Linked DNA regions of Homo sapiens. The protein of the gene in region 1 purifies or fractionates together with the protein of each later gene. This does not show direct contact. Each region holds a gene or a part of one and is shown in the gene's direction. Other genes may lie near its edges. The genes, in order: ZNF133 and TPD52.

Region 1 (4,586 bases):
AACTCCTAATTATTAAATGCTGAGGTCTGTCAAAGATGAAACTGGAGGCTGGACACACCAAATATCTGTATGACAGAGCTGTACATCTAGACGGTGGACATCTAGCATCCCTGTCTATATGCAAGTCAGCTGGCTGCAAGACCACGTGCTGCTGAAAATCTCACTGTGGTCATGACAGTCCACCCAGTGGCTCAGACCCTGAGATTCTGTTCACACTTCCTACACTCTTCCTTACTCGTCTGTGTTCTTCCAACTCCTCATCTTGCCTAATTCCTCAGGCAGCACCTCATCCTGTAAGTCTTCATTTCCAGGCTTAAGAGATGTCAGCCATCTGTGTCTTTATTGTACAGCCAGCACAAGTGAACACTTGAACACAGGCATCCCTGCATTGTTGTTCTGAACCTTTATGTGTATTAACAACTAATTTCTTGGTGATGACTGACTCATGAGGCAGAGAATGATGTTGAGGGATGAATCCAATTGACACTGGACATGTCTCCGGAGCCAGGACTGAACTGAATTCACAATAAATAATGTAGCCTCGGGGTACCAGAAGGGAATGGATTCACCCTCTGAGAGCTACAAAAGAATTTTAGGAAATTCTCATCTCCCTGGCCCTTCAGACAGTGGTCATTTTCTTGGTCTTCCAAGAGAATGACAAAGTTTCAGAAAGCCTATCTGAGGAAGGTGAAGGGCAGTGAGAGGGTGCACGGGTGGAAAAGCCCTCTCAAGAGTGACGTGGGCCTTCCCCTCGAGCTCCCCAGATGGGGCGTCCCAGATGGCACCAGCGCAATCTTGTTCTCAACCAGGATCCCGGACAAAGACCTAGAGATCCAAGCCGACGGCAGGCCAAGCTCTGGCCCGAGACTGAGGCTTCTGCTTCTCAGGAGATGAGAGTTTAACAATAACTTCGTGGATTTCAAAAAGAAGAAAAAGGTCTCAGGGCACCGGAAAAGGTGTATTCGGGTTGAGGGCGTGGGCTCAGAATCGGGTCTACCTCGTACGGGATGTGAGACTTCAGGCAGACTGCTCGGCCTTTTCAAGGCTTTAAATGGAGCTAAAGGGTATACGACATGACGTTCGCCCGGTGTTTAGGAATATGGGGCGTGACTTTCCAAGCAGGCGGCTGGAGCCAGGGAGACCACAGGCCGCTGCAACACAAACCAGCACCTGAACAAGCTTGGTCAGCCAGCGGTACACCTCCGCCAACCCCAGAAGCCGAACAGATGCGCCCCGAAACGTCATTTCCGCGCGCCAAGGGGCGGGGCCGGTACCGGGTGCGGAAGTCGCTCCAGGGGTCACTGGGAAGTGTAGTTTTCGAGACAGAGGCGCTCAGAAGGAGGGTCACAGTAGGGCCAGGCACTCTTCTCGGGAGCTCCTACGTGTTTTATGCACGTGGTTAAGAAAAAAGAGGGAGAATTCAGGTGCCACAGTGGCCATTCTCCGGTGACCGGAGCGTGTTACTCAGAAACGGATCCGTCAGAGGCCAATGGGAGCTGCCGGCCTTCAGGGCGCGCCTGGTGGCGCCGAGCATCCTGGGAGGTGTGGTCCGGGCGCTGTGCCGAGGATTCGGGGTAGTGTAGTCCTGGCGCCCCGCTGGAGGAGCTCCCCAGCTGGTGGCTGGAGCGACCCCTTGTTCTTTGGTGGCGCTGGTGAGTGAGGCTCCCGCGGGACCCTTGCCGCAGCCGTACCCTTTTCTGCGCGAAAAGGAAGGTCCCGAAAGGCTGGACTATGGGCTGAATTTGGGGACCGTGCGGGTGGCGCGGGGGTGGTGATTGTGGTGGGAACGCGCTGGCGTGGCGCAGGCCGTCCTCTCCCAGATGTCTTATTTTGGGGGTGTGGGCGTGCATCTCCAGGGGAGTTGGGTGAAGCCCATCCGTGAAACTGGATGGTGATGAGTGGGGGATCGGGCTCTCTCTCCTAGGGTTCTTGTGGGTGGGGACAGGTTCGGCTTTGGCTGAAGTCGGGTATTGGGAAAGGGAGTCGCTGATGCCATAAGTCCCCGGTTTTGGGGGAGTTGAATAAATAAGCTTTTTGGGGGAATGGTATTTCCCAGGTGGTGGAATGGGAACCATCCCTGGGGCCATGTGTCCCCGAGGCATTGGTCGGTTGAGGGCTAGTCTCTTGGGGCCACACTATTCTTCGGCTTTGCTGGAGTGGAATGAGGAGCGGTCTGGCTTGACCAAACAAGCCAAGGTTAGACTGGATCTGGGGTGGCCATTTTGCCGCGATCTTAGGGTTTCACTTTGGTTGGTCACCCCCGGGTTCGGGCGTTGGAGGAGGAAGTCTGGCTGGGACGCACAGGACAGGTTTTTTCCAAAGGTCCCAGGGACCGTCATTGATCGCAAGAATTACGGATTCCCAGGCCCCTGGTGTGGCCAGGCTTTGGGATTTTACATTCCATTTAAGTTTTTATTGCGGAGAAATTTCAAACAGCCAGAAGTAGATAGAACTCTATAGACCAGATCTCCATCACCCAGATTCAACACTTAAAACCTTATGACCAATCTTGATTCATCTCAGAATGGACACAGAGAATCCTTGCAATCCAGAGTTCACCGTCACTGCCCTTACTGTGTAAGAGCACGGTCTCCACAGCCACATTTCCTCTAGGCTCTGTCACTTTATAGCTGTGTCACCTTGGGCAAGATGCTGACTTCACTGTACCTCAGTTTCCTCGATTTTATCCTAAAGAGGATAATAGCATCTATCGTATTGGGTTGTTGAAAGGATAGAATGAGGTGAAACTCCTACAGTGGCTGTAACAGTCTCTGGTGTATACTAAGTGTTCAGTGAATATTACCTTTCATTAATAACAGGCACAGAGAAGGTCGCTTCATGCTCAGCGTCAACAGCATATCAGGGCAGGTCGTGCTTTCAACCTGTACCCCAGCTGTGTTCCCAGGAAGCTGCCCGCAGTTCTTTTCTCCTTTTCTTCTGTGGCAGGTTCATTCCTGATGCTGTTAAGGAATAGGAGGTACTGCCCTGCTGGAGAGGATTTCCCTTGATTTTCTTGAACGCTTTTTGTTCTTGTTCTGCCTCCCTGTGGCTCCTGTCTGCCCAGAGAGGACTGCCTGCTGGGGAAAGGGGGTACTCCTGAGCTCCTGACAGCCCAGCTTCAGGTGGGTGCCACTTACCTTTTGCATTTCGAACCATGAGTGGGTTTCTTTTGCTCAGCTTTGACGTCTGTGTTCTACAATGTCCCATCCAGGGATCAGGGCCCCAGCTGGTTCCTTCAGGAAACTAGGCTTGTTTTAAGAGTGATCATTTTCACAGGGAATATTTTTCAGAGCTGATGCTCTCATTCATTACACCTATATTCTTCCCCTACATTCCTTCTTTCAGTATTTGTTCAGACTGCTCATTCCCAGGGCTTGTCAGGTCCTGTGAAGTTGTTAACATTCTGTTCTTCTGTCTTCCAATACTCTCACTTACTCTTTTCCCTGCTAGAGTTTTGGCAGCAAATCCCAGTTATATCATTTCACCTGGGAACACTTCAGGAGGCATCTCTAACACATAAGGACTTCTTTTTTTAACATAACCACAATTTCATTGTTATACAGTTACATTGTTACAATTATATTTTGTTATACCCAACAAAATTAATAACTTATTAATATCATTTAATATCTAGCCCATATTGTTTTCCCCCATTGTTAAAAAAAAAATCTTTTTTTTCCACCAGTCAGAACAGCCCTGGTCAGAGGCAGGAGAGGGAAAAGTATCTGGAAACAGCATCCCAGTTTTCCCTATCTCTGCCTCATTTCTCCTCCTATTTCTTCTGATCTTGCTGATCTGTGTTGACAGCCTTATAACTTGATATAAGCTGGACCTCTGAGTTTTCCTTGCATCCTTGTTTCCAAACTTACTTCCCATTAGAAGTTGTGTCCTCCTGGCCGGGCACAGTGGCTCACACCTGTAATCAGCACTTTGGGGGGCCAGAGCGGGCAGATCACCTGAGGTCAGGAGTTCGAGACCAGCCTGGCCAACATGGTGAAACCCCATCTCTACTAAAAATACAAAAATTAGCCAGGCGTGGTGGCACACACCAATAATCCCAGCTATTCAGGAGGCTGAGGCAGGAGAATCTGTCGCCTGGGCAACAGAGCAAGACTCCACCTCAAAACAAAACAAAAGTTGTATCCTCCTATTCCACCTGTGCATTCTTCTCGATTCCTTTTCTTTCCCTTTGTCTCCATTTCTGCACTGCCCTAGCTTCCTGTCTCTTCTTCACCTTCTTGCCTTGTCTTTCCTCCCATTTAGAGCTGAACTCCTTGAAAGAATTATCTATGTTTGTTGTCTGCGTTGCTATCCTTCTGTTATGTTTCGAATATTTTAGTAAGGCTTTTTCAAGTGACACCAAAAAATATTCTTGTCAGGGTTACCAATGGTCTCCTTGACTAAAGGCCACAATCAGTTCTCAGCAACATTTGATGTAATTGTTTACATCCTCCTTCTTAATATATCCTTTCACACAGTTGCTCTTGGTACTAGGTCTTCCTGGTTTTCCTCCTAACTCATAGCCTGCTCCTCCTCTGTCTCCTTTACTGGCTCTTCCTTCCCTCCCAAATTTCCACCGTGGAAAA
Region 2 (3,813 bases), on another chromosome or scaffold:
TTTAACTTTTTGAGGAGCTGTCAAACTGCTTTGCTGCCCAACTTCATTTTACATTCTCACCAGCTGTGTCTGAGGGTTCCAATTTCTCCACATCCTTGCCAACACTTATTAATCTCTGTTTTTTTTAATTGTAACCATCCTAATGGGTATGAAGTGGTATCTCCTTGTGGTTTTGATTTGCATTTCTCAAATTACTAATGAATGGTGTTAAGCATCTTTTCATGTGCTTATTGGTCATTTGTATATCTTGGGAGAAATGTCTATTTAAGTCCTTTGCCCATTTTCTAATTGGATTGTCTTTTTATTGAGTTGTAAGTTTCTTTATATGTTCTAGATACTAGACTCTTATTAGGTATGTAATTTGCCAATATTTTCCCCATTCTGTTGGTTGTCTTTTACTTTCATGACAGTGTCGTTTGAAGCACAACCTGTAGGCATCCTCCCTTTCCCAACCTCTAACACCCACAATTTTACTCTCTACTTAGATGGGTTCAGAGTTTTTTCTTGGCGTCCACATGTGAGTAAGAACATGCAGTATTTATCTTTCTGTGCCTGATTTATTCTGCTTAACGTATTGTTCTCTAGGCTCATCCATGTTGCTGCAAATTACAGGATTTCATTCTTTTTTATGGCAGAATTGTATTCCATTGTGTATACCACATTTTCTTTATCCATTCACCTGTTGATGGACACTTGGGTATTGTAAATAGTGCTGCAATAAACGTGGGGGTGTAGGTACCCTTTGATACACTGATTTCCTTTCCTTTGGATAAGTAACCCAGTAGTGGGATTGCTGGATTATGTGGTATTTCTATTTTAAGTTTTTCTGAGAAACCTCCATACTGTTTTTCATAGTGGCTGTACTAATTTATATTCCCAGCAACAGTGTATAAGAGTTTCATCTTCTCTGGATCCTTGCCAGCATCTGTTATTTTTTGGTTTTTTGATAACAGGCATAATAACAGGTGTGAGGTGATACCTCATTTTGATTTTGATTTGCATTTCCCTGATGATTAGTGATGTTGAGCATTTTTAATATATTTGTTGGCCATTTATATGTCTCTTCTGAGAAATGTCTATTTAGATCCTTTGCCCACTTTTTAAATGGGATTGCTTGTTTGTTTTGTTGTTGAATTGAGTTCCTTGTATATTTTGGATATTAGTCCCTTGTCAGATGAATAGTTTGCAAATGTTCTCTCCCATTCTACAGGTTATCTCTTCACTCTGTTGATGATTTCCTTGAATTTAGTCCCATTTGTCTATTTTTGTTTTTGTTGCCTGTGTTTCTGAGGTCTTAGCCATAAAATCTTTGTCTAGACCAATGCCCTGAAGTGTTTCTCCTATGTTTTCTTCTAGTAGTTTTATGGTTTTGGGTCCTTAGTCCATTTTGAGTTGATCTTTGTATATAGTGATAGACACATCAGAGATTCTTAATCATGCTCTTTATGCTTTTAAAGTCACTCTGTTTTACATGTATATATTGAATTAAGGAATCGCAGCCATGATGTGCTGGGCTAGGTGTGTTAGCAGCACAAGCTAACCAACAAAGGTGGGGAATATACTGTGTTGTGCATTGTTCAGAAAGATTTAGAGTGGTTTGTCTTTGCAGCTTTCATTAGAGGAAGTGAGTACCTCAGAGAAGTGCTAAGGGGTGGGAAACTTACCATTTAAGTCTATTCTTAGAAGTGTCTGAAGCTTTGGAGCCTGAAGTAGAGACAGAGGAAGTGGGAAGCTTAAGAGAGTGTACATGAGAATTCAGCCAGTAAACTGAGACGTGCATTCAGAAAACCTAGATAGGAATTCTGGTTCCTACATTATTTGTTTGATGACTTTGGGCAAATCATTTAATTTACTTAATTTTGAACCTTATTCTTTCCTCTTTTTTTGTCCTTTTCTTCTCGTATTCCACTTCGTCAATGTACATCTTAAAATGTGACTTACAAAACTGGGTCCAGTACTTGTGACTCTGACAAGCACAGGGGATTATTTATTTGTTCTGAGGGACCTCTGTTCCAGTTAATCTTATCTGAGAGTGGTGTTGTAGGTTCTTTTTCTTCTTTTTTTTTTTTTCTTGGCAGCTGCATCACATTTGATTTATCCTTTTCTCCGTTGCACTAATTTTCTTTGTTTTGTGTTCTCTAAAGACTTAAACATCTGTGAAAACATTTGACTGAGCAATACTCTATGTTATTTTTAAAGGGCATGTTGTCTTTGAAATCATAGAAATACCGTGCAGGTTGGGGCTGAAAATATGGCTTTGCAACAAGCCAGGAGACGCATTTCTCTGAGGGTCTTGAATGTTAATGGATATACTTTAGGGACCTAGATTTTCAATTTCCTGGGACCTAAAGTCTCTTCCACATGGTGTCTATTTCTCTCTGAAATAGGCAGTCCACCCTTTTCCCTGTTTCTGAAATAGAGAGTCTACCATTTTCCCTGTTTTCCTGGATTAGCCTTTTGTTCTACTCTGTCCATTTTTTCCTTTTCTTCATAGCTTCTGCTTACAGTTTTAGATTCCTCAAGCATATTTAAGCTTTCCATACCTCTCATAATCTCACTGTAGCCTACCTATACCTCAAGGCTTCTTCAAGTTTTTTCAGCTTCTACTTGCAATGTCATCTCACTTCTCAAACTAGATTCCTGAGTGAGAGAGACGAATAGTTGAGCACCTCTTTTCACACTGGGCTCATCCACTGGCTCTTGATGGGTGGCTGTCCATGGGTCAGGGCCCACCTCTAACCACCTAGTCAAGTCTGGGCAGTCAGCATCAAGGGGTTCACATGAAACCCTTGAGAGCAGGGATCTCCTGAGGAGGCGGTTTGATTTATTATGGCCATGACTTTGCCAGACACAGGGACTGAGTATATGTATCCAGTATATATACTCATATCAAATATGCAAGGAGATTGGATTTGGGTTTGGCTTGGTTGTGTGTGTTTTGGTAGGGGATGGAGATTATTTTGATTTAGTATACAAATACAAGTTTTGTAGGCATTCAGATAGAAATGTCTAGGCTGGGAAGGCAGACCCACAGGTCGGGAGAGTGGATGTTAGAGTGCTTTATTAAGTATTATCTGTGTAGAAATTTGAGTCCTAAACCTACATGAGATAGCTGAGTAAGGAAGTATAGGGAGAGAGGAGAAGGCCAAAAACAGCTTAAGATGGGATTATAAAGAGCTCCCATGGAGGAGGAAAGAGAACTCTACAGGAGAGATCAGCAAGTAACCAGTTTACTCAACAACATTATACATTGTTTTTAGAGAGAAAGATAAATGATTCAAAAAAATGTTTAATGACTGGAATTTTGGATGTAGTTCTGTGGTAATAATCTTAACTTACTGAATGACTTTTGCTATATTCTTACCCCAAACCCCTTCCTCATAGGTAGAAGAAGAAATCCAGACTCTGTCTCAAGTGTTAGCAGCAAAAGAGAAGCATCTAGCAGAGATCAAGCGGAAACTTGGAATCAATTCTCTACAGGAACTAAAACAGAACATTGCCAAAGGGTGGCAAGACGTGACAGCAACATCTGCGTATGTTTCCTTGATCATACACTTTCCTTGGGAGTGTAAAGGACACTGTTGTGCCTTTTGTCTGGAGAGGGGAAGAAAAAGAGGATAAGGATGCTTCAGCAGCTTTTCTTTGGACGACACGGCACCCTTTTTTTCTGATTTTCAAGTGTGCCTGCCTTTTTTTGTAACTTCAATTTTTCCAGACCACTTATTCTAAGGAATAGAAAGAAAGCTAGCCAGTTGGAGAAATAAAATTCAAATCCCATAAGTGTTATGTATTGACTTGCCACAAATATGTACA

The links.
Region 2: the proteins of ZNF133 (region 1) and TPD52 purify together in Homo sapiens (affinity purification with mass spectrometry; one large-scale study listed by BioGRID and IntAct). This does not show direct contact.

What each region holds. Positions count from the first base shown.
Region 1 is NC_000020.11:18,286,953-18,291,538, forward strand, and holds the start of ZNF133 (zinc finger protein 133), read left to right. Parts: upstream 1-1,574; 5' UTR 1,575-1,652; intron 1,653-2,946; exon of another isoform or gene 2,947-3,122; intron 3,123-4,586. UniProt on the Homo sapiens protein: May be involved in transcriptional regulation as a repressor.
Region 2 is NC_000008.11:80,053,002-80,056,814, reverse strand, and holds part of TPD52 (tumor protein D52), read left to right. Parts: intron 1-3,384; coding exon 3,385-3,533; intron 3,534-3,813. Other genes in the region: TPD52-MRPS28 protein, read left to right, coding at 3,385-3,533.